3 separate regions of the Homo sapiens genome follow, and regions 1 and 2 are each linked to region 3. Evidence: fine-mapped expression QTL. A gene starts in region 3. Each other region holds a variant in brackets. All regions are shown on one strand. Distances are from middle to middle.

Region 1 (8,187 bases), 270 kb before region 3:
CCAGCTCCAGAATTAGGAGGACACTGATCTCCAACAAGCATTTCTCCCCTCAACCCCCTGGAAGTACCCCTCCTGAACACATTTCAATTACTTGAGCCCATCACAGCCTAATAGAAAATAATCAAAAACAAGTAATTCAAGCACTACTTTTCACAATTATCTTAGGCATTTGCTTCACCCTCCTACAAGTCTCAGAATACTTAGAGGCTCCCTTTGCTTTTTCTGATGGAATTTATGGCCCAACATTTTTTATAGCTACAGGCTTTTATGGACTTCACATCATTATTGGATCAACTTTCCTTACTATCTGCCTTCTCCGCCAATTAAAATACCACTTTACATCCAGCCATCATTTTGGCTTTGAAGCCACCGCCTGATATTGACACTATGTAGATGTAGTATGACTATTCTTGTATATTTCTATCTACTGATGAGGGTCTTACTCTTTTAGTATAAACAGTACCATTGACTTCCAATCAATTAGTTTCGATAGTATCTGAAAAAGAGTAATTAACCTAACACTAGCCCTAGTAATCAACACCCTACTAGCCCTGTCACTTATAGCTATTACATTCTGGCTCCCACAACTTAATATTTATACAGAAAAATCCAGCCCCTACGAATGAGGATTTGACTCGTTATCCTCCACCCGCATTCCTTTCTCCATAAAATCATTTCTAGTAGCCATCACATTCCTCCTATTTGACTTAGAAATCACCCTACTGCTACCCTTACCATGAGCCCTTCAAACAACCTGACACTAATAATTAGTACATCCCTTATGCTAGTTATCATTTTAATCCTAGGGTTACCTTATGAATGAACTCAAAAAGGATTAGACTGAACTGAATTGGTAAGTAGTTTAAGCCAAAATAAATGATTTTGACTCGTTAGTTATGATAGAACATGTTTACCAAATGCCCCCTGTTTACATAAATATTATATTCACATATACCATATCACTTCTGGGGTTATTAATCTATCAATCCCACTTAATATCAGCAGTTCTTCTACTCCTTTCTCTCACAGTCCTAGCTGCCAGCATTGCTATATATAAATACAACTTTTTTCCTACTATGCCTAGAAGGAATAATATTATCATTATTCATCATAAATACCCTTATAACTTTATTTACTTATTTATTTATTTATTTTATTATTATTATACTTTAAGTTTTAGGGTACATGTGCACAATGTGCAGGTTAGTTACATATGTATACATGTGCCATGCTGGTGTGCTGCACCCATTAACTCGTCATTTAGCATTAGGTATATCTCCTAATGCTATCCCTCCCCCCTCCCCCCACCCCACAACAGACCCCAGAGTGTGATGTTCCCCTTCTTGTGTCCATGTGTTCTCATCGTTCAATTCCCACCTATGAGAGAGAACATGCGGTGTTTGGTTTTTTGTCCTTGTGATAGTTTCTGAGAATGATGATTTCCAATTTCATCCATGTCCCTACAAAGGACATGAACTCATCATTTTTTATGGATGCATAGTATTCCATGGTGTATATGTGCCACATTTTCTTAATCCAGTCTATCATTGTTGGACATTTGGGTTGGCTCCAAGTCTTTGCTATTGTGAATGGTGCCTCAATAAACATACGTGTGCATGTGTCTTTATAGCAGCATGATTTATTGTCCTTTGGGTATATACCCAGTAATGGGATGGCTGGGTCAAATGGTATTTCTAGTTCTAGATCCCTGAGGAATCACCACACTGACTTCCACAATGGTTGAATGGGTTTACAGTCCCACCAACAGTGTAAAAGTGTTCCTATTTCTCCACATCCTCTCCAGCACCTGTTGTTTCCTGACTTTTTAATGATCGCCATTCTAATTGGTGTGAGATGGTATCTCATTGTGGTTTTGATTTGCATTTCTCTGATGGCCAGTGATGGTGAGCATTTTTTCATGTGTTTTTTGGCTGCATAGATGTCTTCTTTTGAGAAGTGTCTGTTCATGTCCTTCGCCCACTTTTTCATGGGCTTGTTTGTTTTTTTCTTGTAAATTTGTTTGAGTTCATTGTAGATTCTGGATATCAGCCCTTTGTCAGATGAGTGGGTTGCGAAAATTTTCTCCCATTTTGTAGGTTGCCTGTTCACTCTGATGGTAGTTTCTTTTGCTGTGCAGAAGCTCTTTAGTTTAATTACATCCCATTTGTCAATTTTGGCTTTTCTTGCCATTGCTTTTGGTGTTTTAGACATGAAGTCCTTGCCCATGCCTATGTCCTGAATGGTAATGCCTATGTTTTCTTGGGTTTCAGGGTTTTTATGGTTTTAGGTCTAACGTTTAAGTCTTTAATCCATCTTGAATTAATTTTTGTATAAGGTGTAAGGAAGAGATCCAGTTTCAGCTTTCTACATATGGCTAGCCAGTTTTCCCAGCACCATTTATTAAATAGGGAATCCTTTCCCCATTGCTTGTTTTTCCCAGGTTTGTCAAAGATCAGATGGTTGTAGATGTGTGGTGTTATTTCTGAGGGCTCTGTTCTGTTCCATTTATCTATATCTCTGTTTTGGTACCAGTACCATGCTGTTTTGGTTACTGTAGCCTTGTAGTATAGTTTGAAGTCACGTAGCATGATGCCTCTGGCTTTGTTCTTTTGGTTCAGGATTGACTTGGCGATGCGGGCTCTTTTTTGGTTTCATATGAACTTTAAAGTAGTTTTTTCCAATTCTGTGAATAAAGTCATTGGTAGCTTGATGGGGATGGCATTGAATCTATAAATGACCTTGGGCAGTATGGCCATTTTCACGATATTGATTCTTCCTACCCATGAGCATGGAATGTTCTTCCATTTCTTTGTATCCTCTTTTATTTCACTGAGCAGTGGTTTGTAGTTCTCCTTGAAGAGGTCCTTCACAGCCCTTGTAAGTTGGATTCCTAGGTATTTTATTCTCTTTGAAGCAATTGTGAATGGGAGTTCACTCATGATTTGGCTCTCTGTTTGTCTGTTATTGGTGTATAAGAATGCTTGTGATTTTTGTACATTGATTTTGTATCCTGAGACTTTGCTGAAGTTGCTTATCAGCTTAAGGAGGTTTTGGGCTGAGACAATGGGGTTTTCTAGATATACAATCATGTCATCTGCAAACAGGGACAATTTGACTTCCTCTTTTCCTAATTGAATACCCTTTATTTCCTTCTCCTGCCTGATTGCCCTGGCCAGAACTTCCAACACTATGTTGAATAGGAGTGGTGAGAGAGGGCATCCCTGTCTCATGCCAGTTTTCAAAGAGAATGCTACCAGTTTTTGCCCATTCAGTGTGATATTGGCTGTGGGTTTGTCATAGGTAGCTCTTAGTATTTTGAGATACGTCCCATCAATACCTAATTTATTGAGAGTTTTTAGCATGAAGGGTTGTTGAATTTTGTCAAAGGCCTTTTCTGCATCTATTGAGATAATCATGTGGTTTTTGTCTTTGGTTCTGTTTATATGCTGGATTACATTTATTGATTTGCATATGTTGAACCAGCCTTGCATCCCAGGGATGAAGCCCACTTGATCATGGTGGATAAGCTTTTTGATGTGCTGCTGGATTCAGTTTGCCAGTATTTTATTGAGGATTTTTGCATCAATGTTCATCAAGGATATTGGTCTAAAATTCCCTTTTTTGGTTATGTCTCTGCCCAGCTTTGGTATCAGGATGATGCTGGCCTCATAAAATGAGTTAGGGAGGATTCCTTTTTCTATTGATTGGAATAGTTTCAGAAGGAATGGTACCAGCTCCTCGTTGTACCTCTGGTAGAATTCGGCTGTGAATCCATCTGGTCCTGGACTTTTTTTGGTTGGTAAGCTATTGATTATTGCCACAATTTCAGAGCCTATTATTGATCTATTCAGAGATTCAACTTCTTCCTGGTTTAGTCTTGGGAGGATGTATGTGTCGAGGAATTTATCCATTTCTTCTAGATTTTCTAGTTTATTTGCGTAGAGGTGTTTGTAATATTCTCTGATGGTAGTTTGTATTTCTGTGGGATTGGTGGTGATATCCCCTTTATCATTTTTTATTG[C/T]GTCTATTTGATTCTTCTCACTTTTCTTCTTTATTAGTCTTGCTAGCGGTCTATCAATTTTGTTGATCCTTTCAAAAAACCAGATCCTGGATTCATTAATTTTTTGAAGGGTTTTTTGTGTCTCTATTTCCTTCAGTTCTGCTCTGATTTTAGTTATTTCTTGCCTTCTGCTAGCTTTTGAATGTGTTTGCTCTTGCTTTTCTAGTTCTTTTAATTGTGATGTTAGGGTGTCAATTTTGGATCTTTCCTGCTTTCTCTTGTGGGCATTTAGTGCCATAAATTTCCCTCTACACACTGCTTTGAATGTGTCCCAGAGATTCTGGTATGTTGTGTCTTTGTTCTCATTGGTTTCAAAGAACATCTTTATTTCTGCCTTCATTTTGTTATGTACCCAGTAGTCATTCAGGAGCAGGTTGTTCAGTTTCCATATAGTTGAGTGGTTTTGAGTGAGTTTCTTAATCCTGAGTTCTAGTTTGATTGCACTGTGGTCTGAGAGATAGTTTGTTATAATTTCTGTTCTTTTACATTTGCTGAGGAGGGCTTTACTTCCAACTATGTGATCAATTTTGGAATAGGTGTGGTGTGGTGCTGAAAAAATGTAGATTCTGTTGATTTGGGGTGGAGAGTTCTATAGATGTCTACTAGGTCCGCTTGGTGCAGAGCTGAGTTCAATTCCTGGGTATCCTTGTTAACTTTCTGTCTCGTTGATCTGTCTAATGTTGACAGTGGGGTGTTAAAGTCTCCCATTATTATTGTGTGGGAGTCTAAGTCTCTTTGTAGGTCACTCAGGACTTGCTTTATGAATCTGGGTGCTCCTGTATTGGGTGCATATATATTTACGATAGTTAGCTCTTCTTGTTGAATTGATCCCTTTACCATTATGTAATGGCCTTCTTTGTCTCTTTTGATCTTTGCTGGTTTAAACTCTGTTTTATCAAAGAGTAGGATTGCAACCCCTGCCTTTTTTTGTTTTCCATTTGCTTGGTAGATCTTCCTCCATCCCTTTATTTTGAGCCTATGTGTGTCTCTGCACGTGAGATGGGTTTCCTGAATACAGCACACTGATGGGTCTTGAGTCTTTATCCAATTTGCCAGTCTGTGTCTTTTAATTGGAGCATGTAGACCATTTACATTTAAAGTTAATATTGTTATGTGTGAATTTGATCCTGTCATTATGATGTTAGCTGGTTATTTTGCTCGTTAGTTGATGCAGTTTCTTCCTAGCCTGGATGGTCTTTACAATTTGGCATGATTTTGCAGTGGCTGGTACCGGTTGTTCCTTTCCATGTTTAGTGCTTCCTTCAGGAGCTCTTTTAGGGCAAGCCTGGCGGTGACAAAATCTCTCAGCATTTGCTTGTCTGTAAAGTATTTTATTTCTCCTTCACTTATGAAGCTTAGTTTGGCTGGATAGGAAATTCTGGGTTGAAAATTCTTTTCTTTAAGGATGTTGAATATTGGCCCCCACTCTCTTCTGGCTTGTAGAGTTTCTGCCAAGAGATCTGCTGTTAGTCTGATGGGCTTCCCTTTGTGGGTAACCCGACCTTTCTCTCTGGCTGCCCTTAACGTTTTTTCCTTCATTTCAACTTTGGTGAATCTGACAATTATGTGTCTTGGAGTTGCTCTTCTCGAGGAGTATCTTTGTGGCATTCTCTGTATTTCCTGAATTTGAATGTTGGCCTGCCTTGCTAGATTGGGGAAGTTCTCCTGGATAATATCTTGTAGAGTGTTTTCCAACTTGGTTCTGTTCTCCCCGTCACTTTCAGGTACACCAATCAGACATAGATTTGGTCTTTTCACATAGTCCCATATTTCTTGGAGGCTTTGTTCATTTCTTTTTATTCTTTTTCTCTAAACTTCCCTTTTCACTTCATTTCATTCATTTCATCTTCCATCACTGATACCCTTTATTCCAGTTGATTGCATTGGCTCCTGAGGCTTCTGCATTCTTCACGTATTTCTCGATCCTTGGCTTTCAGCTCCATCAGCTCCTTTAAGGACTTCTGTGCATTGGTTATTCTAGTTATACATTTGTCTAAATTTTTTTCAAAGTTTTTAACTTCTTTGCCTTTGGTTTGAATTTCCTCCTGTAGCTCAGAGTAGTTTGATCATCTGAAGCCTTCTTCTCTTAACTCGTCAAAGTCCTTCTCCGTCCAGCTTTGTTCCGTTGCTGGTGAGGAACTGCATTCCTTTGGAGGAGGAGAGGCGCTCTGCTTTTTAGAGTTTGCAGTTTTTCTGCTCTGTTTTTTCCCCATCTTTGTGGTTTTATCTACTTTTGGTCTTTGATGATGGTGATGTACAGATGGGTTTTTGGTGTGGATGTCCTTTCTGTTTGTTAGTTTTCCTTCTAACAGATAGGACCCTCAGCTGCAGGTCTGTTGGAGTTTGCTAGAGGTCCACTCCAGACCCTGTTTGCCTGGGTACCCGCAGCAGTGGCTGCAGAACAGCAGATTTTCATGAACTGCAAATGCTGCTGTCTGATCGTTCCTCTGGAAGTTTTGTCTCAGAGAAGTACCTGGCCGTGTGAGGTGTCAGTCTGCCCCTACTTGGGGGTGCCTCCCAGTTAGGCTGCTCGGGGGTCAGGGGTCAGGGACCCACTTGAGGAGGCAGTCTGCCCGTTCTCAGATCTCCAGCTGCATGCTGGGAGAACCACTGCTCTCTTCAAAGCTCAGATGAAAATGCAGAAATCACCCGTCTTCTGCATCGCTCATGCTGGGAGCTGTAGACCGGAGCTGTTCCTATTTGGCCATCTTGGCTCCACCCCTCCTTATAACTTTAAATATACATTTTACCCTAGCAACCGTAGTACCCATCACCCTACTAGTATTTGCTGCCGGCAAAGCCGCAGTGGGCCTTGCCTTACTAGTTTCAATTTCCAACACATATGACTTAAACTATGTGCATAACCTAAATTTACTTCAAAGCTAAAAGTTATCATTCTAACAATCACACTGCTACCAATAACATGACTCTCTAAAAATCCTATACTCTGGATGAATATAACCACTCACAGCCTAATTATCAGCTTTATTGCCCTATTATTCTTTAATCAATTCAACGACAATCTATTCAACTCCTCATCAACTTTCTCCTCTGATCCCCTAACATCACCCCTTCTAATCTTAACAGCCTGGCCATTACCTCTTATAATTACAGCAAGCCAGTATCACCTCTCCAGTGAATCCCTCCCACAGAAAAAGCTCTATATTTCCATATTGATCTCCCTACAGGTTTTTCTAATTACAGCATTTACAGCCACAGAACTAATTATATTTTATATTCTCTTTGAAACTACACTTATCCCCACCTTAATTATTATTACCCGCTGGGGCAACCAACTAGAATGCCTCAATGCAAGCACATATTTCTTACTTTATACACTAGTAGGATCTCTCCCCCTACTTATTATACTTACTTACACCCAAAATATCCTAGGCTCACTGAGCATAATAACATTTAATACCCAACAACTATTAATTTCCTGATCCAACAACTTTATATGGTGTGTATAATGGCTTTTATGCTAAAAATACCCCTATACGGACTTCACCTATGACTTCCTAAAGCCCATGTAGAAACTCCTATTGCCAGTTCAATAGTACTTGCAGCAGGACTCCTAAAACTAGGCGGCTATGGCATAATACGACTTAACCCTTATCCTCAGCCCCCTGACAGAATATATAGTCTATCCCTTCCTCATGTTATCCTTATGAGGTATAGTTATGAGAAGCTCTATCTGTCTATGACAAACTGATCTAAAGTCACTTATTGCATATTCCTCCGTAAGCCATATGGCACTTGTTATTATGGCTATCCTTATTCAAATCCCCTGAAGCTTTATCTTGCTATTATCCTCATAATTGCCCACGGACTTACTTCGTCCCTACTTTTCTGCCTAGCAAATTCAAACTACAAGCGAACCCACAGCCGAATCATATTACTCTCTCAAGGGCTTCAAATATTATTTCCACTAATACCCTTTTGCTTATAGCAAATCTTACTAACCCTGCCTTACCCCCCTCCACTAATCTAATAGGTGAACTCCTCGTAAGAGTGGCTTCACTCTCCTGATCAAATATTACCATTATGCTTATAGGATGTAATATATTAATTACAGCCCTTTATTTCCTTCACATCCTTGTCACAACACACCAGCAAACACTTACTTA
Region 2 (8,187 bases), 120 kb after region 3:
AGTTTTAGTCAGTCAGGGAGATGGATTTGAGACTGAGCTCCCATTTCCTCGGCTGCAGCACCCGATTATAGCCTTTTTCTGTAGCAATACTTGTCTCAGTGATTGGTTTTCTGTGTGGTGAGCAGCAGAACCTACACCAAACCCCTGGTGTTTTGGTAACAGATTTTGGTTCCCTGACCAGGAATGTGTTGTTTGTGGTTCCGCTGCCTTGGACCTGGGGTCTCAGAAGCCCTCCTAAGCTGCCTGCCCACTTTTGGCTGGAAGCGAGTTTCCATCTCTCTTTGGCTTTGCCTTAGCTGGCCCCGACTGCATTCCTGATTGCCTTGGAAGAAGCCCCTTCCTAGAAGCACCTCTACATCCAAAGAGGTGCATGTCCTTTTTGGGCCCATATAGCAGGATCTGCTCCTCTCAGTTTGGGAAAATTTTAAAGGAATTTCCATTTGCAGGTTGAACAAGCCCTGCAAAGAGCTTGATGGGGGAGCACCCTGACTGTTGTTTCAGTATGGATACTCTTGGGGGCTTGTTTGTAATTGTGTGGTGTGCGGGCAAGTGCATGTCTTTTGTAGGTACCAGACAGCAGGATCAGCTCCTCTCAATTTGGGAAATTCCTAAGGAATTTTTGTTTGCAAAAACCAAAAGCCTAACCGATGGAGAAAGGAAGCACCCCAACTGTTTCAGTTTGGACACTTGGGGCTTGTTTGTTGCAGCAGCAACTGGATTGTGTTCTGGCGATTGTGTGTGTGTGTCTGATATAGTCATGGGAAATTAGAATTTGGTAAACTTGATTTTTTTTTTTTTTTTTAAGACAGAGCCTTGCTCTGTCAACTAGGCTGGAGTGCAGTGGCACAATCTTGTCTCACTGCAACCTCTGCCTCCCGGGTTCAAGCGATTCTCCTGCCTCAGCCTCCCGAGTAGCTGGGATTACAGGCGCAGCCACTACACCCGGCAATTTTTGTATTTTTAGTAGAGACAGGGTTTCACCATGTTTGCCAGGCTGGTCTTGAACTCCTGACCTCAGGTGATCCACCCACCTTGGCCTCCCAAAGTGCTGGGATTACAGGTGTGAGCCACTGCGCCTGGCCATAAACTTGATATTCTTTTGCAATACCGTTTGGCCACAATATCGTTTGGAATGTGGAGTTTGCTGTTAAATGGGAAAGTGGGTTGGAGTTGCATGTATCCAGGTTTCTGTGCTGCTGTTCTAAGCAGGGTTGAGCCTGCTTAGTATGTGGTGCTCTCCTTTGGTGCTGTTTGGCCACAATGTTCTTTGGAGTCTGGGGAGGTTGGGCCTTTGAAAATCAAACTGCTATGGAAACTACCCAAAATTTTGGTTCACAGCCTTCACCAGATTACCTACTGGGGCAAAAGAAGTGTAACCATGTAAAACCAGTATGTTTGTATTGCTATCTCATTGCTAGAGCTCTAAGGTAAAAGCTATTGGATCTTTGTGTGTGTACGCATATCTATATGTGTTTATTTGTATGTACACTTATTGTTATATGTTGTGTCTACCAAATTGGCTTATAAATAAAAGAGCACTCAGGCCGGGCATTGTGGCTCATGCCTGTAATCCCAGCACTTTGGGAGGCCGAAGCGGGCAGATCACAAGGTCAGGAGATCAAGACCATCCTGGCTAACATGGTGAAACCCCGTCTCTACTAAAAATACAAAAAATTAGCCGGGTGTGGTGGCGGACGCCTGTAGTCCCAGCTATTCAGGCGGCTGAGGCAGGAGAATGGCATGAACCCGGGAGGCGGAGCTTGCAGTGAGCTGAGATGGCGCCACTGTACTCCAGCCTGGGCAACAGAGCAAGACTCCATCTCAAAAAAAAAATTAAATAAATAAAATAAAATAAAAATAAATAAAAGAGCACTCATACATTAAGTAAATTAAGTCCAAGCTATTTTCAAGTTCATGTGACTTAAGTAAATCTTTACTAGCTTGCTTTAAAATGGTTGGTAAAATGAAAACAGGAATGTCTTCAGAATTGTCAGCATATATTTTTGTCTGGTTTTTATATTTGTCTCTGGGAGATATTTTGAGATGTCAGGGTTTGGCATGGAAGGTTATAAAACTATAAAGCTGGCCAAAACAAAATGATCTTCATGCAAATTTTTTGATAAGTCAGACTGTTATTGGTTTAATGAAAACAGCTGAATCTTCTGAGTTATTAGTGACAATGCCCATGTAGTTAACTTTAAGGTTCTTATTTCAGTGAACATCTGATATTCACAGATTATAAAATTGTTAAGAAGGAAATTACTAACTTTAAATGATGGTGTTTAATCTCTCAGTTTTCAGAAGTAATCTAGATAAACTGCTAAAAATGAAAGAATTGAGTACATGTAAATGGGATGTTTTAGGTAAACTTTTTGTGTAATTTAAAATCTGGAAATTATTTTTGATGCTCATTAGATATGCAGGTTGCTTCCAATTAAAAAAGCTTTGTGATATAGGAAAATATGTTTCTGAAAATTGTGGAACTGTTCTTAACTATATAAAATGTTCATATCTGATAGTTCAGGATTTCTTGCTTTTTAGGGTTTCACTAAAATTTAAGGTTACTAAGGATAAGAATTATAGTTAATAGTAATTCTGTATATAAATGTGCCAAAAGATGTATTAGAAAAACAGTAATTTTGTCTAATTCAGAAGTTATCTAAAAGTTAGTTCAAATTACACCTTTAAAAAGATTATTTATGAAACAAGGCAGTAGGAATCAGTAAGTAAGGGAGAGAGATGTGAAAAAAGTTATATATATGAAGATGTATTTTTGGTAAGGAAGGTTATAAAGAAAAGCTAATTTTGTATGAGAAAGAATCTTGTATGGTAAATTCTTTTGGCCTACAGTAAAATGGTAAGAAAGAAAAGAAGAAAGGAGGAGGAGGAGGGAAAGGAGGAGGAGGGGGAGGAGAAGGGGGAGGAGGAGGAGGCGAAAAAAGAAGGAAGAAAAAATCTGGGACTGAACAGAAAGCCCAGGCATGTCATGGATAATCTGTGTAAGTCACATGTAATTTTTTTCTGTTTCTCTGTGTGTCTATCTTCATGCACATACAGACAAAATAGAAAGTTGAAAAAGTTTAGATAGTAAAGCATTCTTTAAAACCTGATAGACAATTGGAGAAATTTGGCTAATTAACATTTTCATAGTTAAAGCTCTCAGTCCTGATTAAAATAAAATAAATATTATAAAAAAACGCAGGCCGGGCATGGTGGCTCATGCCTGTTATCCCAGCACTTTGGGAGGCTGAGGCACCTGAGGTCAGGAGTTCGAGATTAGCCTGGCCAACATGGTGAAACCCTGTCTCTACTGAAAATATGAAAACTAGCAGGGCGTGGTGGTGGGTGCCTGTAATCCCAGCGACTAGGGAGGCTGAGGCAGGGGAATTGCTTGAACCCAGGAGATGGAGGTTGCAGTGAGCCAACACAATGCCACTGCACTCCAGCCTCGGTGACAGAGTAGGACTCCATCTCAAAAAAAAATGTATTGGCAGTTTGGCAATTC[T/GGCAATTCT]TTTTTACTGTAGTTAAGCATGAAGCCAGATTTAGTGTACATGTTTGTATTGCTTCACACTATGTTTGTTGTTTTGCATGGATAGTGCTGGCACTAGAGTACTTACTGGCCATGTGCCTAGAATGAATTTCTTGATTGCACAGGATGTATGGTAATATTGGTGGACTTAAGGATACTGACTTGTGTGATCAGGAATAAAATATTCATTATGTGGGGTTTTCTTGACTCTGGGTAACACTGCAGCCTCCAGGGTAACTGAGTGGGGAAAAGAATGGGGGGTCTGTTTCCTGTTTGTTTTTACTTCTTTTTTTTCTTTTTTTTTTTTTTTGAGATGGAGTCTCGCTTTGTCACCCAGGCTGGAGTGCAGTGGTGCAATCTTGCTCACTGCAACCTCCACCTCCCAGGTTCCAGCTATTTTCCTGCCTCAGCCTCCTGAGTAGCTGGGACTACAGGCGCCTGCCACCACACCTGGCTAACTTTTGTATTTTTTGTAGAAACGGGGTTTCACCATATTGGCCAAGCTGGTCTCGATCCCCCGACCTTGGGATCCGCCTGCCTTGGCCTCCCAAAGTGCTGGGATTACAGGCCTATTTTCACTTCTAGTTTTTATTTGTTGCTGTTTGTTCTCCTTTGGGTTTTTCTTGTGTATGCGTAGATATAAAACTGATGTTTTTTAGTTTTTAGTAGAAGGCATTTATTTGGTTCTGTGAATAATTATTTTGTTTCCTATGCATTTCTAGCAAGTCATTATTTGTTCTATTTATCTAGAATTCCCAGGCTATCTTTGTTTGGTCTTCAGGAATGGATGGAGCACAACAGCCATTTGAAATTTGGTTGGATTTGCTTGCCTCTAATGATCTACAGAGCTATGAGAGTTTTAAGGTTCCCAGCCACAAAAAAATGAAATAATAAAAGACTTAAGTTCTGAACAGAAATAGCATATTACAAATTTTGTAATTTGGCAAAAGTAGGTGAGAACAGAAATGTTTCAATGGTGTTTATATTCAAGGTAACTCAATTCAATCAACAATTTGAGTTGGTTTCAGATCTTTTCCTTTAGGTGGTGAAGAAAAACTGTGATATGGGTACATGGTTTTAATATTCAGGAAAGATTGGCCTTATCCTTAAGGAAATTATATTGAGTAGAATTTCTCTCAAACTAATTTAAAGTGACATTCACTTGGATTAATTAGTAATTTTAAAAAAGGTGAGACTTCCTGGTGATTTGTGATCTCAAGCTGTTTATCACTGATGGGCCTTCATGTATGTACCTGAAAACAAATTATGTGCACATGCTGCACTGGTTTACAGATTTGAGTGGTGAAGGTTGCCTAACCAGTCGTCAGTACTGTATCTAGAAACCAATCTTAGAAATGTGTGTTGATGTGTTTTCAAAATAGCTGAAAAGAAATTGCTGTGTGCTTATTCTTACTTTCTCCCTGTTTCGTTGTATAGTATTTAAGTGAAAGATTACTTCTCATACTAAATTTCCAAAACTGATATTTGCATTTATCATTTTTTAATGATAAAGAAAAAATGTTAGTTAGTCTTATTTTGCTAAGTCTGGCATAGGACTTATAATTTTTTTTTTTTTTTGAGACATGGTCATACTCTGTCACACAGGGTGGATGGCATGATCTTGGCTCACTGCAACCTCTGCCACTGGGCTCAAGTGATTCTCCTGCCTCAGCCTCCCAAGTAGCTGGGACCACAGGCACCCACCACCATGCTCAGCTAATTTTTGTATTTTTAGTAGAGATGGGGTTTCACCATGTTGGCCAAGCTGGTCTCAAACTCCTGAGCTCAAGTGATCCACCTGCCTCGGCATCCCAAATTGCTGGGGATACAAGCATGAGCCACCATGCCCATCCAGACTTACAACGTTTTTTATGTTTTTGTTTACAGTTATGTTACTAGAATACTAGCAATTAGACATATGTGATGAGTAACCTAACTACTTTAATACAGTGGTTTGAAGTGTTGCTGGCAGTAACTTCTAAACACCAATTACATTGTTTTAATTTGTAACATGTTAGAGAGAATGATAGTTAAGTATTAGGTCTTATTGTTTGAGAAAGTTTCCTCTCTATCAAAGCGTAAACATTTTATATTATAATTTTCGCTACCTGAATGACTATTTTATAGAAACTTGTGATCCTATTTTGTGATATTGGGTGTCTGTCTGAAACCTTTGAAATCTGACAGATTTTCTAACAGCAAAATTTCAGGTTTTTTTTTTTTTTTTTTTTTTAGATGGAGTCTTGCTTTGTCACCGAGGCTGGAATGCAGCGGCACAATCTTGGCTCACTGCAACCTCCACCTCCTGGGTTCAAGCCATTCTCCTGACTCAGCCTCCCGAGTAGCTGGGATTACAGGCTCCCGCTACCAAGCCCATCTAATTTTTGTAGTTTTAGTAGACATGGGGTTTCACCATGTTGACCAGGCTGCTCTTGAATTCCTGACCTCAGGTGATCTGCCCACCTCGGCCTCCCAAAGTGCTGGGATTACAGGCATGAGCCATCACGCCTGGCCAATTTCAAGTTTTAAATTCAGTCTTTTTGTCCTCAAACTAAACTTTTTGGATATTAGGTTCCCTGAAGTTCAAGAGAGACATGGTTGGGATTATTAGGCTTGTTATATTAGAACTATGCAGGAAGCATTGTCAAATCTGAGGTGGTGTTTAGCTTCCTTCAAGTTATATTTATATAGATGTGTTGCTAACATGGGTTCTAGGATTATATGAGATTCCTAAAATTCTGATATGCCTTAATATATGTTGTCAGTAATAGTTATGATTGTCACGTTAAATTGTTGTATGCCACAGAAATAACCAAATTTTCCTGTCAACGGTGTCATTAACTATGGCTGTCTTAAGACTTTTGTCATCCACAATTGATGTTTTACTTTGATCCTTCTCAAAAAAAACTGGCTTAGAATTAGCTACAGTCCAAGGCTTACTTCTTTGGAGGAGTTCTTGAAAAGGACTCGTGAGTGCAGGTTTCTGATAACTTTGGAGATTGTGCCATTGGATTAGAGGGAGAACTTCCACTGCACAAATTGAAAGGCTGATGTGTTCCTGAAGATTGCTAACCCAATATGAAGCAGAGCAGGAGGTGACTGCATGGACTGAACTACTGCAGGACAGAAATAATTTTTTTTATGGCTTTTGTTGTTTGAAATATTGCTGATTCTTTTTGTTTTGTTTTTCAGAGTCTGGAGAATTTTTTTTTTTTTGGAGCTATTTATAGCCTTGAAATATACTTTAAGTGTATTGAGTATACTTTTGTAAACAGAATTTGAGTCATATTTCTCTGCCTAATTTCTCCAGAATTTGTAAACTATTCGTGAATATTCTTCATTCATGGCAATGTGTAATTCTTTGCACAAAGACCATGTTTTCTTTTGTAATGCGACACAATTGAAGGGACTGGTTATTTTCTCAGGGCTTTGACTGAAATAGTCTTGTGAGATGTTCCAGCAAAGCCAACTTGGGAATCTATATGGACAGTGATTCTTGTTGCACTTTGTGTGAGTAATCAGGCCAAGAATATGGGACTGACACTTATTATGCAGCTAGGTTGGTCCTGCTGTGATTTGTCTTTGGCAGAAGTGTGGACCAGGGAGAAATATTGTATGTCAGAAGAAAACTCTATATTAGATTAACCTTCGATTCCTGGGTGGCTACATGGTCAGCCATGGTATGGAGCTGCCCACGACACCCCTCCTCAGCATGAAGCAGCCAGAAAGATCAATGACGAGATTCCTCATGATTGTGGAACTGATAAATAGAAAGGGGGGACTGAAACCAGCCCGAGGGTCCCATAGACAGTTGCTTTTGGATAAACATAGAAATGGATCCTTCTGCTGTTAAAGCTTGAAACTTGTATTTGTTTGATATGAGTTCCTTCCTCAGAAAAGGGATCTCAGGAAGTGTCAAAGGAGTGAAACTCACCAGATCACCACATCAGATGCCTCCTTGCCCCTCCCTAGGCCCTATTTTCTCACACACTGTTACATTTCTTCCCTCCTACATAAAGCCCTAGTTTTAGTTGGTCAGGGAGATGGATTTGAGCCTGAGCTCCCACCTCCTTGGCTGCTGCACCTGATTAAAGCCTTCTTCCTTGGCAATACTTGTTGTCTCAGTGATTGGCTTTCTGTGTGGTGGGCAGCAGAACCTAGACCAAACCCCTGGTGACACATACACAACTCACCATGCATGCACAACTCACACAACATACACACATACACATGAAACACCACACACGCACAAGATGCAAAAAAAACACGTTTGCACAATGCACACAGCGCACACACACACACCATACATACACGACACATGCAAAACACAAAACACACACAGCACACACCATACATATGCAACGCATATGCACCACACATACACAACATACATGTAACATGCCCAACACACAAAACCCAGAACATACACACAATGTATACCACACATGCACAACATACATACACATCATAAAACCACTATACACACAAAGCACACACAACATAAACACTACACACACACGCAACATACACCACATAGAAAACACAAACACACCCCATACACAAAAAACACATCACACAACACACACAACATACGCAACACAATATAGGCACCATACTCTACACACACCACATACTTAACGCACCAACTACAAACACAAACACAC
Region 3 (8,187 bases):
GCAACCGCCACCACACCCAGGTAATTTTTTTGTATTTTTAGTAGAGACAGGGTTTCACCGTGTCAGCCAGGATGGTCTCGATCTCCTGACCTCATGATCCACTTGCCTTGGCATCCCAAAGTGCTGGAATTACAGGTGTGAGCCACCACACCCAGCCAAAATACTATTTTAAAAAGTGCCAAAAAAAGGTGAAAATAGTTGTCTATAGTTTAAAAAGGGGGTGGACAAGAGATTGATATATTTTTTTTTATTCTAAGGTTTAAAGCACTATTTGGTTGTTTTTTTTGTTTGTTTGTTTTGAGACAGAGTTTCGCTCTTGTTGCCCAGGCTGGAGTATAGTGGCGCGATCTTGGCTCACTGCACCCATCGCCTTCCAGGTTCAAGCGATTCTCCTGCCTCAGCCTCCCAAGTAGCTGGGATTACAGGCGCCCACCACCACGCACAGCTGATTTTTGTACTTTTAGTACAGACGGGATTTTACCACGTTGGTCAGGCTGGTCTCAAACTCCTGACCTCAGGGGATCCACCCGCCTCAGCCTCCAAAAGTGCTGGCCTCCAAAAGCTTGAGCCACCACGCTCAGCCTATTTGGTCTTTCAATCTATGTACATGTATTATTTTGATAAATGTAAACATGTAAACAATAACCTGAATTATCTTCAACTATACCAAAACAAAAAAACCAACCTAAATTAATCTACCTATTTGAACCTTCCAACAGTGCTCTGCTTTCGTTTTTAAATTGGGGAGAGAAATTTAGAGAGTATCTTTAGAAACCAAAAATCATGAAGTATGATTTTGATCACATTTTGTTTTGTTTTTGTAGAGACGAGGTTTCACTATGTTGCCCAAGCTGGTCTCGAACTCCTGGGCTCAAGGGATTCTTCCATCTCAGCCTCCCAAAGTTCTGGGATTACAGGTATGAGCCACTGCAGTCAGCCTATCATATGCTTTTGAAATTTCACAGAACCCAGTGTTTGGGTATAAGCTTTAGAGTTAAAAGACCTATGTTCAGATCCTGACTCAATCGGACAAGTCACGTTTCCAAGCCTGATCTATAAAACGAAAATTCCCACCACCTACTTGACAGGATGTTCGGAAAATTGGGTGAAATAATATGTAAGTAGTTGGCATGGTGCCTCACAGTTACTAGAACTCGATAAATGGTAGCTGCTTTGACAGCAATTATTACTATTTACTACTATTATTACTATTACTTATTTTCCCCCTTACCAAAATTTGCCGAAAATATTCTAGAACAAGCTTGTCCAACTCATGGCCCCAGCCCAGGTCAGCTTTGAATGCAGCCCAACACAAATTTGTAAACTTTCTTAAAACGTTATGAGATTTTTTTGCAATTTTATTTTTTAGTGCATCAGCTATCATTAGGGTTAGTGTATTTTATGTATGGCCTTCTTCCAATGTGGCCCAAGAAAGTCTAAAGATTGGACAGCCCTGTTCTAAGAACAAGGACATCAAGCTGCTTCTCAAATGGCTCAGAAGACTTCTGTTTGATTGCCTTAGCATGCTGAATTTCACACCACTCCATAACTTAATTCAACATTTCACTATTTATATCCTGGAGCAAAACTGAATGCATAAACTAAAACTCATCAGATAAACACTAAGCCCTAGCTGTTGGTCTCTAGAGAATAAAACACCAGCAAACTAGCTGCAAAAGAACATTATTTTTATGCCAATAAAACCTATGCAAAGCTTTAAAATGTAAGCCATATTCAACAATTTAAATTATTTTAAATTTGAATTTGTATCTCTTTGAAAGCATTGAATCGAAACAGACAACAGATGGACAAAAAATACTGCCTTTGGAATCTGACAGTTCTAAGCCTGAAGCCTACTTTGCCTTCTACTCACTAGTATGACCTTCAGCAAAATTCTAAACCTCTCTAAGCCTCAGTTTTCTTACCTGTATGACCAGGCACAACCAATTACGTCATGGGGTTACTGTGACAATTAAAGGAGGTATGTCCAAACAGCCCTGTAGTAGATGGTCCAAAAGTGAGAATTGGCCAGGCGCGTTGGCTCACGCCTATAATCCCAACACTTTGGGAGGCCAAGGCAGGCGGATCACCTGAGGTCAGGAGTTCGAGACCAGCCTGACCAACATAGTGAAACCCCATCTCTATTAAAAATACAAAAAATTAGCCGAGCATGGTGGCGCACGCCTGTAATCCCAGCTATTTGGGGGGCAGAGGCAGGGGACTCCCTTGAACCCGGGAAGCGGAGGTTGCAGTGAGCCGAGACTGCGCCATCGCACTCCAGCCTAAGCAACAGGAGTGAAACTCCGTCTCAAAAAAATAAAAAATAAAAAAGTGAGAACTGCTACAATTACATTACTATTTTGTTCCAAAAGCTAGAATTCAGGTTTAACTGTCTACAACTCCTCATGATATCCCAGTTCTCCAGCTCTCTTTCGCTATAAAAGTGGCTTCCTTATGAAAAAGGAAGAAAACTCATCTCTGTTCTTCAAGGGCAACAGTGGAGAGTCAAAGAGATGTCACAGGTACATTCTGAAACAGAAGGGAAAGAAGGTTGGGTGACCCATCAACATGTAGAGGTCAGTTCCCACGTGGCATTGGCCATTTCCAGTTGGGAACCACTTCTTAACAACAAGCCTAATACAAGCACCATCAAAGGGCAGACAGGCAAAGAAAGCAAAGAGGCAAGGAAGTCCAACTTTCCGTTTCCATGATCCACTGTGGAAGCAAATATATAACTAACAAAACAACTGGGTCAATTAGCCCCCACTTTGGGAGCATTTTTAACAGTGTGTTTTGCAGTTTTTGGTAGTTACTGTTATTAATAAGGTAATTCTTTAATTTCTTTAGACAAACAGTAAGAAGGCAGGCAGAGGAAAGGAGAAACAAAAATATTAATGCAAGCTGAAAAGCATAAGCAAAGCTTTCAGAAAGAGCTGAGAGAAACCTCCACCTTCCCAAGGAGTAACACCACAAGAGTATCTGTCCTCTCTATACCACTGCTGTACACATTTAATCAACTCAGTCCTTGAGAATAGCAGGAAATTTACTTACAGAATGTACCACCGCCTTTAAAATATAATGCTAGCAAAGAACCGCTGTCAGGTTCTGAGTTCTTTTCTGCAGCCTTCTTCAATAAGCATTTACTGACCACCTACAAAGTGCCAAACACTATGCTGTTTATTAGGGAAACCCTGCAACACAGTTTGATTCCTGTCCTCAGGGAGATCAGTACGAATAGGGAAGAGTCGAGTAAAGAGATCACCACCACAGAGAGTAAACACCAGGCACAAAGGAAGCCCAGACAAGCTCCAGTCCTATCAATATCCAGCCAACCAGCCCAGGGTTAGGAACTTTCTGAACCTAGGGAACACTCCTGAGCACCACAATTGAACCGTCACAGCAGTATTCCCACACCCCCACAGGTCCTTAGGCAGACACACCCACTGCATGGGCACAGACGCACAGCTGTGTCTGTGCATACATGTTTTGGTCATTAGTTTAGTCAACAAATACTGAGGGCCACACTAAACAGGCAGTTACCAGTGCCAGCTCGGGTCCTAATTCCTCATGTGACTTCGGACAAGTCACTTCCTGAATTGGTACTGGTTCATACCAAAGGCCACAGAAGACCTTGGAATATTCCTCCCCTCAGCTGTCAGCCCTCCTCCCTCGGTGGTGGTTCCACCCTTTCCTAAGCACTAAAAATTTAAAGGCTGAGACCATGAGTCAGTATTATTTTGAATTAACCATGTTCCTTTAATTTTTTACAGTGACCACTCCACCTCATTCCTTTCCTCCACCCACCCTGAACCGGTCTACATTTGAGATTTAAGCGGGGTGGCGGGGCGGGGATCCCTATGCAAATCCCTGACCTCCGGAGTTTTCAATCTAGTTGAGTAACAGAATCAAACATGAAGAGAGATATGTAAGATAAGGTACACCAAGCACTTATGACTAAAGACATTGCAAGGCCAAGAGCAGGTGAAATGCAGCGGGGGCGGACCGCACCGCGAGGGTAAAGCCTCAACGCCCCCCGGGACTTAAGGAGGGGAGACCTCTGGGCAGGAGAACTGAGAAGGCAAGTTCCCTGGAGCAGAGGGAGCAGCAGGGGTAGAGATCGGACGCCGGGAGACCCCAGGCGGCGGGCCGCAGCAGGTCCCGGCAGTCAGACATGTGGGACACTCCCGAGCGGCCAGAAAGGATGCAAGGCGGAGGCTGCAGTCGGGAAAGGAGGAGGGTCCGCGGGGCCGGAGAGGAGGGGCTCGGGGAAAGGACCGGAGGCGGACGCCGGGGAAGCGATGGGAAGGGGTCTGAGAGGCCGGGGGGGCCCACTGGGAGGGCTCTCGAATGGGCTGCTCTAGGGGAGACTGAGAGGGCGGACCTGGGGAAGGTCAGGGTGGTCCAGGGAGGTGGGCGGACCCGTGGCCAGGAGCCTCAGGGAAAATTAGGGAGTGGGGACACCGCGGAGGTGGCGCGGTGCGGGGTCCCCTCAGAGGGGCGCGAGGCTGGGCAGCTCTAGAGGAGAATCTGGAGAGGCGCGGGCCAGAGGGGAAAGGAGCTAGGGTCGTCCGGACTAAACAGGGACACTCACCTGCGAACCAGCGTGGAGAACACCAAGACGCCACGGCGATTCCTCGCCTGCTCGCCTGCAACTGCCGCACGTCCGGCGTCCTGGCCGCCGTTCTGACGTCACGCCTCGGCGCGCATGCGCGGCGGGCCCCGGCCGGTGGGGCGGGGTGTCTGGGTGGTTTTCTGAGAAACGGGACGGAAGGCGGCAGGGGGCGTGGGTCTCCCAGGAGGTCGGCGCTTCCACTAAAAGGAAGTGTTACAAAGTGAGATCCTGTCTTAAAAATATAAAAATTTAAAAAAAAATTGTTAGCACCCTAATCTTGGTTTCTAAATACCGCTCTCTAAAAATAGGGCCAAGGCGCCTTAGAGAAATGGGCGACTCTAGGACCCGGGCGCAGAAAGCTCCAGCTGAGCCGGGAGCGTTTTGTAGGCCAGAAGCTTGAGGTGCTCAAAAAACTGAAGGACCGGGCGTCCAAGGGCGCAGGGATCTACCCAGAGAGCTTCCGGGGGCCGCGCCTGGGACAATTTGAGCAGCAATATAAAGTACATTGCATTAAGTTATAACCTAAAGTATAAAACAGCCCAGAGCCCGTGCTGCTATAAATACGTGATTAAATAAATGAGGGAGAAGGGATAATCTTCCTTGCAGAGGAATTCTAATAATACCTCATCCAGAGGGGTGTGGTAATCCGTCCACACCCACCCTGAGTGTGGCCTATGCCTGGGGACGACCTTTCCAAGAGTACAGTGTGGAAAGAGGGCTGTAGAGCCACTCCACGTGAAAATCAAAGTGATTAGTCACTGCACTTGCCCTTGACATGTGATTAAAAAAAAAACCGTGACCTCAGTCTAACTGAAAGATAAACATCAGACAAATCTCGTTTGTGGGATATTCCTCAAAACACCTCACCAGTACTCCTCAAACTATCAAGGTAATCAAAAGCAAGAAAAAAACTGAGACACTGTCATATGCAACATGGTGATGTAGCTAGGCTATAAACTTAAAATAAAATTTAAGTTTAGGTAATAGTAGTTTTTAGTTATAAGAAATGTATAATGGTTATGTAAGATGTTAACATTAGGAGAAATTGTGTGAAGGGTATACTAGCTTTATAACTTTTTTGTAGTCTAAAATTATTCCAGATGAAAAGTTGGGGGTTTTCTGAAGACAATAGAGGGAAAATAAATGTTAGCCAGGTGAGATGGTTCATGCCAGTAATCCCAGAGCTTTGCGAGCCAGAGGCAGGAGGATTGCTTGAGCCCAGAAGTTTGACCTGCAATCAAGCCACTGCGTTCCAGCCTAGCAGGGGTTGGGGGGTGGTGTAGGGGTACTGCCTGGAAAGAGGCTTGAGAGAGCCTCCTGGCAACCCCACTCCTAGGGTGCTGAAAATGTTCTATACATTGATCTGAGTGGTGGGTACGTGTGTGTAAGTAAAACTTTATCAAGCTGAACACTATACTTAACATTTGTACATTTTTGGCCGGGCACAGTGGCTCACGCCTGTAATCCCAGCACTTTGGGAGGCCGAGGCAGGCAGATCACGAGGTCAGGAGTTTGAGACCAGCCTGACCAACGTGGTGAAACACCGTCCATACTAAAAATACAAAAAAAAATTAGTCAGGCCTGGTGGTGCGCTTGTAATCCCAGATACTCAGAGACTAAAAATACAAAAATTAGCCAGGCGTGGTGGCGGGCGCCGGTAGTCCCAGCTACTTGGGAGGCTGAGGCAGGAAAATGGTGTGAACCCGGGAGGCAGACGTTGCACTGAGCCGAGATCACGCCACTGCACTCCAGCCTAGGCGACAGAGAGACTCCATCTAAAAAAAAAAAAAAAAAAAAAAAAGATTTGTACATTTTTCTGTGTATAAATTATATCTAAATTTAAAAGGGAAAAACTCTTAAAAAAAATATTGGAAGAGCCCTATTATTATTGGTCTTCAAAACCCCAAACTCTGCCAATCAGGGCCCCTGTCTTAACCCAGCTCCTCTCTGGGGAAAATTTAAAAAATGCAGGGTAGGGAGTCCTATGATGCCTGCAATCCCATCTTTTGCAAGATATTATAGCTTAGTCAACACAAGAGTTCAGAGATTTGTGTGACATGGGGTTCTTCCTGGTTCCGCTGCTTCTGGATGAGCTCGGGTAAATTGCCTGACATCAACAAGCTTCTTGACCAGCCCTCATTAAGGCTATACTAGCCCTGACCACCTTCAGGGTCAGTCTTAGGGACCTTTCAGGGTCTGAGTTTGGAGTATCCAAAAATACACTAACACATTCTCTCTGAGTGATGGGACTGTGGATGACATTTCTTTTTTCTACTTTTCTGCATTTTCCAAGTTTTCTTTCATGAATATGTATCACTTCAACAACAGGAAAAAGTAATATTTAAGGCTGGGTGTGATGGCTCACGTCTATAATCCCAGCACTTTGGGAGGCCAAGACAGGAGAATTACTTGAGCCCAGGAGTTCAAGACCAGCTTGGGCAACACAGTGGGACACTTTCTCTACAAAAAAATAAAAATAAAAAAATTAGACTGGCATGGTGGCATGCATCTGTAGTCCCAGCTACTTGAGAGGCTGAGAGGGAAGCTTCACTAGAATCCGGGAGGTCAAGGGTGCAGTGAGCCATGATTGTGTCACTGCACTCCAGGTTGAGCAAAAGAATGAGACCCTGCCTCAAAATAATAATAATTTTTTTTTTGAGATGGAGTCTCACTGTCACCCAGGCTGGTGGACAGTGGCACCATCTAGGCTCACTGCAACCTCCGCCTCCTGGGTTCAAGCAATTATTCTGCCTCAGCCTCCTGAGTAGCTGGGAATACAGGTGTGCGCCCCCACACCCAGCTATTTATTTTGTATTTTTAGTAGAGACAGGGTTTCATCATGTTGGCCAGGCTGGTCTCAAACTCCCGACCTCGTGATCCACCTGCCTCGGCCTCCCAAAATGCTGGGATTACAGGCGTAAGCCACTGCACCCAGACAAAAAAAAAGTAATATTTTAATAAAGTTCAGTTTAAGTAGGCGTTCCAGTACCTGGAGGAGGGAGTGTCCCATAACAAGTTTTCTGATTCAGTAAAACTGGCTTTCTGGGCTGGGCGTGGTGGCTCACGCCTGTAATCCTAGCACTTTGGGAGGTCGAGGCATGCAGATCGCTCGAGGTCCAGAGTTCGAGACCAGCCTGGCCAACGTGGTGAAACCCCATCTCTACTAAAAATACAAAATAATTAGCCAGGCGTGGTGGCGGGCACCTGTAATCCCAGCTACTTGGGAGGCTGAGGCAGGAGAATAGCTTGAACCCAGGAGGCGGAGGTTGCAGTGAGCTGAGATTGTGCCACTGCACTCCAGCCTGGGCGACTGAGTGAAACTCCAACTCAGAAAAAAAAAAAAAAAAAAGAAAGAAAAGAAAAACTGGCTTCCTGTTCATGTTTATTGAGAAGAGGCCAGGGGAAAGAAGGCTGGGTGCAGGTGAGGACGCCTGCTTTCCAGCCCCCTATCTGAATGTGCAGCCTCTTGTCTGAAACTGAGAGGGAGAAGTCCAAGAGTTCAAAGAGTTGCATTGGGACTCTGTACCCATCAGTCACCTGTCTCTGTGGCCCTCAACTGGCTCAAACCAAATTAC

Direction of the effects. Positions count from the first base shown, and alleles are read on the strand shown. Sizes are in standard deviations (SD) of each study's normalised expression. Not every link is listed here.
In carriers of allele GGCAATTCT in region 2, the expression in sun-exposed skin of the gene that starts at base 4,654 in region 3 tends to be lower than with T alone (moderate effect, 0.42 SD a copy in GTEx).

The links. PIP is the estimated chance that this variant, and not a neighbour inherited with it, causes the effect.
Region 1: its variant is the best candidate, but not a certain one, in a credible set for the expression of PLEKHB2 in whole blood (INTERVAL, PIP 0.69).
Region 2: its variant is the best candidate, but not a certain one, in a credible set for the expression of PLEKHB2 in sun-exposed skin (GTEx, PIP 0.56).

Annotation. Positions count from the first base shown.
Region 1 is chr2:131,372,406-131,380,592 of GRCh38, reverse strand. It overlaps the pseudogene MTND4P21, the pseudogene MTND4LP28, the pseudogene MTND3P18 and the pseudogene MTCO3P18. Among named protein-coding and RNA genes, the nearest start is that of RAB6D, 12 kb to the right of the region's middle. The variant C/T (reference allele first, on the strand shown) is at 4,022.
Region 2 is chr2:130,977,304-130,985,490 of GRCh38, reverse strand. The region is part of intron 4 of ARHGEF4 (Rho guanine nucleotide exchange factor 4); the gene reads right to left. Among named protein-coding and RNA genes, the nearest start is that of SMIM39, 54 kb to the left of the region's middle. The variant T/GGCAATTCT (reference allele first, on the strand shown) is at 3,506.
Region 3 is chr2:131,101,803-131,109,989 of GRCh38, reverse strand. It overlaps PLEKHB2 (pleckstrin homology domain containing B2), which reads right to left and starts at 4,654. Exons shown (of 8, transcript NM_001100623.2): 1 at 4,592-4,654. RefSeq lists an enhancer at 4,801-4,930.